Linked DNA regions of Homo sapiens: region 1 is linked to region 2. A link means that fine-mapping ties the variant in region 2 to the expression of a gene that starts in the linked region. Tissue or cell type: whole blood. Region 2 holds a variant in brackets; the other region holds the start of a gene. All regions are shown on one strand. Distances are from middle to middle.

Region 1 (2,814 bases), 310 kb before region 2:
CCTGTGTAGAGGATGGTTCCAAAATATCCTTCAAAGAGAAACATGACAGAACCAGGACAGTGATTGGCATCGAGGAGGGTTACGGTCATGGTCTCTTGTCCAATTTCATCTAGGGGTAATACATGGCTCTCACCAACCTCCAGGGCTTGGATCCATTGCTTAGATACCTGAGAAAACAGTTAGTCATCCCAGTGACCACTGACTCCTCTCCGTTACCTCCCCGGGTCAGGGACTATCCCTTACATGAATCAGGAAAGCTGACCAAATCCTGAGCCACCGGGAGCAGAAGCTGTAATGGGGATTCCCAAGCAATCTGCCCTTCCTCCTTCCACTTCCCATCCCACCCTTTGTACAATTTAAGAGTTCAGCTGGCCGGGCGTGGTGGCTCACGCCTGTAATCCCAGCACTTTGGGAGGCTGAGGCGGGTGGATCACGAGGTCAGGAGATCGAGACCATCCTGGCTAACACGGTGAAACCCCGTCTCTACTAAAAAATACAAAAAAAATTAGCCAGGCGTGGTGGCGGGCGCCTGTAGTCCCAGCTACTCGGGAGGCTGAGGCAGGAGAATGGCGTGAACCCGGGAGGCGGAGCTTGCAGTGAGCCGAGTTTGCGCCACTGCACTCCAGCCTGGGCGACAGAGCGAGACTCCATCTCAAAAAAAAAAAAAGAGTTCAGCAAACAGTCTAGTCAGCAATTCCCAAACTTACTCCTGATCTTAATCTCTTGGAGACTTAAGGGTGGGGTGGGGAGAGAGCTGGAGAACCACCCAGCACATTAGGTGGATTCTTAAGATGAGGCAAGTTTAGGCGGGGCGTGGTGGCTCACGCTTGTAATCCCAGCACTTGGGGAGGCTGAGGCGGGCGGATCACTTAAGGTCAGGAGTTAGAGAACAGCCTGGCCAACATGGTGAAACCCCGTCTCCACAAAAAATACAAAAAATTAGCTGGGCGTGGTGGCGTGCGCCTGTAATCTCAGCTACTCAGGAGGCCGAGACAGGAGAATCGCTTGAACCCGGGAGGCGGAGGCTGCAGTGAGCCGAGATTGCGCCACTGCACTCCAGCCTGGGCAACAGAGCGAGACTCCGTCTCAAAAAAAAAAAAAAAAAAAAAAAAAAAAGGCAAGTTTGGGAAACATCGGCCTAGCTTACTTATAAAGGTAGGAATAGTTTCCTTGGCTGGATTAAAATATCTCCTCAACTTATGGCTAACTATCTCAAGTTGGTCACTTCGAAAACACGTTCCTATTCTGGGTTAAAGATGCATTTTTGGGTTCAAACAACTTCCAAATCAGTTTTCGTGGCCCCCATTCTATGACTCCAAGAATGACAGGTTGAAGTCCCAACCCAGATGCCTGGACCAGCTCTCGGAGACCGACTCCAGCCCCATACCTGTAGGTGACGATGCAAGAGGTGGGCTGTAATTGGGGAGCAGTAGAGGGGCCGGGCCCAGGTGCTAGACAGGCCCACGGTGTGGTCCGAGTGCATGTGAGACAAGAAGAAGAGACGTGCGGTGCCAGCCCGGCGCAGGCTCCAGAAGTCCACTGCGATGGGCGTATGGGGGATCAGGACCCCATTCATGGTGGTAGGGTTGGAGTCACCAGTGGGATCTTCTCCACGGGGGCAGGGCTCCTGCGTGAGGCTTCCACAACGGCGTCCCGATAAAAGTCATGCTGGGGCAAGAACAGGGCCAGAGACCCTAAGGGAAAGAGCCCAGCAGAGCAATAAGTTACCAGAGTGGGCAGAAAAAGGAAGTCACCCTGCCCGCTGGAGCCCAAATCGCGGAGGGCGCTGGACACTCCCAACCGCGCGGGAGCGGAGGCCGAGCCGGGCACTCAAAGCGCGCGCTGCAGGGAGGAGACAGGCCAAAGTAGCCGATTTCCGATTGCCCGCCGCAGCTCCACCAGAGGGAGCCGCGCAGCTGCGCCTGGAGAGTGAGAGGTTGGGGGAAGGGCATCCTAAGGTCGGAGTCGGGACTACGCTTAGCGCTCGCTCGCGGGGAGACCGGCAGCGGTCTTCTGTTTGGTCTCTTGACAAGGGGGCGGGACTTCCGCAGAAAGCAAGATTGGGCCTATCCGCGATGAGAACGGCGTGGAGGGGGAATTAAGGCTGGAACTGGAGAGGGAGGGGTCTGCGGTCAGTCGGACGCGGCGCTGGAAATCCGGCGGAGGACCTAGAAGTAGCGGGAGCGATCTGTGGGCGGGGCGAACGGCCTGCCGGCCGACGGTAGGGCCTGAAGAGCCTAGGGTGGGGCTCGCGGTGTCGCGGAGGGCGTGGAAGTGTGTCAGGGCCAGCGTGCCGGCCCTACGGAAGCCGAGCCTGAGGCGAGATCTCGCCTTTTGTATTTTCACTGACTCATATTTCCTTTACTCAGGCTCCCACATCAGGACGAGAAGGAGCCCTCGAGTTACCGTGGGAGCTGTGGGAGCTGCCCTGTGACTCTTAGGAAGATGCCGTACCTTGGCTCCGAGGACGTGGTGAAGGAGCTGAAGAAGGCTCTGTGCAATCCTCACATTCAAGCTGATAGGCTGCGCTACCGGAATGTCATCCAGCGAGTGATTAGGTATCACCTACCTCCCTTCGCGTGCTAACTGCTCCCTTTGCAATCCCCATCAGGGCTCACTAGCCCCAGTCTCTCTGAAAGGGTGAATTAGCTTTCACACGTGGCAGTTATATGGTTCGGTCTTCGTCCTGCTGCTTTGGAGTACCATGTCAGTCTCCCCTCTGCAGCATCTTTTACTCAGCTGGGTAGTTTCCTCCATATCACGGGCTTGAGCAATTACTGGTGACTCTTGGATCTATAATATAGCTAGTACAGA
Region 2 (2,814 bases):
GCCTCCAGCTTTGTTCTTTTGGCTTAGGATTGACTTGGCAATGCGGACTCTTTTTTGGTTCCATATGAACTTTAAAGTAGTTTTTTCCAATTCTGTGAAGAAAGTCATTGGTAGCTTGATGGGGATGGCATTGAATCTATAAATTACCTTGGGCAATACGGCCATTTTCACGATATTGATTCTTCCTACCCATGAGCATGGAATGTTCTTCCATTTCTTGTATCCTCTTTTATTTCATTGAGCAGTGGTTTGTAGTTCTCCTTGAAGAGGTCCTTCATGTCCCTTGTAAGTTGGATTCCTAGGTATTTTATTCTCTTTGAAGCAATTGTGAATGGGAGTTCACTCATGATTTGGCTCTCTGTTTGTCTGTTATTGGTGTATAAGAATGCTTGTGATTTTTGTACATTGATTTTGTATCCTGAGACTTTGCTGAAGTTGCTTATCAGCTTAAGGAGATTTTGGGCTGAGACAATGGGGTTTTCTAGATATACTATCATGTCATCTGCAAACAGGGACAATTTGACTTCCTCTTTTCCTAATTGAATACCGTTTATTTCCTTCTCCTGCCTAATTGCCCTGGCCAGAACTTCCAACACTATGTTGAATAGGAGTGGTGAGAGAGGGCACCCCTGTCTTGTGCCAGTTTTCAAAGGGAATGCTTCCAGTTTTTGCCCATTCAGTATGATATTGGTTGTGGGTTTGTCATAGATAGCTCTTATTATTTTGAGATATGTCCCATCAATACCTAATTTATTGAGAGTTTTTAGCATGAAGGGCTGTTGAATTTTTTCAAAGGCCTTTTCTGCATCTATTGAGATAACCATGTGGTTTTTGTCTTTGGTTCTGTTTATATGCTGGATTACATTCATTGATTTGCGTATATTGAACCAGCCTTGCATCCCAGGGATGAAGCCCACTTGATCACGGTGGATAAGCTTTTTGATGTGCTGCTGGATTCAGTTTGCCAGTATTTTATTGAGGATTTTTGCATCAATGTTCATCAAGGATATTGGTCTAAAATTCTCTTTTTTGGTTGTGTCTCTGCCCAGCTTTGGTATCAGGATGATGCTGGCCTCATAAAATGAGTTAGGGAGGATTCCCTCTTTTTCTATTGATTGGAATAGTTTCAGAAGGAATGGTACCAGTTCCTCCTTGTACCTCTGGTAGAATTCGGCTGTGAATCCATCTGGTCCTGGACTCTTTTTGGTTGGTAAGCTATTGATTATTGCCACAATTTCAGA[G/T]CCTGTTATTGGTCTACTCAGAGATTCAACTTCTTCCTGGTTTAGTCTTGGGAGGGTGTATGTGTCGAGGAATTTATCCATTTCTTCTAGATTTTCTAGTTTATTTGCGTAGAGGTGTTCGTAGTATTCTCTGATAGTAGTTTTTATTTCTGTGGGATCGGTGGTGATATCCCCTTTTATCATTTTTTATTGCATCTATTTGATTCTTCTCTCTTTTCTTCTTTATTAGTCTTGCTAGTGGTCGATCAATTTTGTTGATCCTTTCAAAAAACCAGCTCCTGGATTCATTAATTTTTTGAAGGGTTTTTTGTGTCTCTATTTCCTTCAGTTCTGCTCTGAATTTAGTTATTTCTTGCCTTCTGCTAGCTTTTGAATGTGTTTGCTCTTGCTTTTCTAGTTCTTTCAATTGTGATGTTAGGATGTCAATTTTGGCTCTTTCCTGCTTTCTCTTGTGGGCATGGGTACATAACGAAATGAAGGCAGAAATAAAGATGTTCTTTGAAACCAACGAGAACAAAGACAACATACCAGAATCTCTGGGACACATTCAAAGCAGTGTGCAGAGGGAAATTTATAGCACTAAATGCCCACAAAAGATTTTGAGTTTTAAAAATTTATTGAGACTTGTTTTGTGGCCTATCATATGGTCTACTTTGCAGAAGGTTCCATGTGCTGATGAGAAGAATGTATATTCTGCAGTTCTTGGTTAGAATTGTTCTGTAAATATCTGTCAGGTTTATTTGTTCTAGAGTGTAGTTTAAGTCCAGTGTTTGCTGATTTTCTGCTCCAATGATCTATCTAGTGCTGTCAGTGGAGTGTTGAAGTCCCCTACTATTATTGTGTTGATATCTCCTTTCTTAGGTCTAATAGTAATTGTTTCATGAATCTGGGGGCTCTAGAGTTAGGGGTATATATATTTAGTATTGCAATATCTTCTTGTTGATCATTTTATCATTGTATAATGACCTTCTTTGTCTTTTTTTTTAACTGTTGTTGCTTTAAAATCTGTTTTCTCTGACATAACAATAGCTACTCCTGCTCACTTTGAGTTTCCATTTGTGTGAAATATCTTTTTCCACTCTTTTACGTTGAGTCTATAGGAATCCTTATGTGTTAGATGAATCTCTTGAAGACAGCAGATATTTGGTTTGTGAATTTTTATCCATTCTGCCAATCTTCTTCTTTCAAGTGAGCACTTAGACCATTTACATTCAACATTAATATTGAGATATAAGGTACTATTCCAGTCATCATGTTGATTGTTACCTAGTACTTTGTTTTCTTTACTGTGCTATTGCTTTATAGGTCCTGTGAGTTTTTTTTTGGAGGGGGGGTGGGGGGATGGCAGGCAGAGTCTCGCTCTGTTGCCCAGGCTGGAGTACAGTGGTGCAATCTTGGCTAACTGCAACCTCCACCTCCTGGGTTTAAGCAATTCTCCTGCCTCAGCCTCCTGAGTAGCTGGGATTACAGGTGCCCACCACCATGTCTGGCTAATTTTTGTATTTTTAGTAGAGATGGGGTTTCACCATGTTGGTCAGACTGGTCTTGAACTCCTGACCTCATTATCCGCCCA

What was found. PIP is the estimated chance that this variant, and not a neighbour inherited with it, causes the effect. A credible set is the group of variants that fine-mapping cannot tell apart.
Region 1: it holds the start of DCLRE1B, and the variant in region 2 is the best candidate, but not a certain one, in a credible set for the expression of DCLRE1B in whole blood (TOPMed, PIP 0.75).

Annotation. Positions count from the first base shown.
Region 1 is chr1:113,904,349-113,907,162 of GRCh38, reverse strand. DCLRE1B (DNA cross-link repair 1B) reads right to left here and starts at 1,837. Exons shown (of 4, transcript NM_022836.4): 1 at 1,388-1,837; 2 at 2-167. The coding sequence starts at 1,576. It overlaps AP4B1 (adaptor related protein complex 4 subunit beta 1), which reads left to right and starts at 2,364. Exons shown (of 10, transcript NM_001253852.3): 1 at 2,364-2,558. The coding sequence starts at 2,446. RefSeq lists enhancers at 1,949-1,998, 2,029-2,588, 2,669-2,728.
Region 2 is chr1:113,597,984-113,600,797 of GRCh38, reverse strand. All of the region lies in intron 6 of MAGI3 (membrane associated guanylate kinase, WW and PDZ domain containing 3), which reads right to left. Among named protein-coding and RNA genes, the nearest start is that of PHTF1, 160 kb to the left of the region's middle. The variant G/T (reference allele first, on the strand shown) is at 1,242.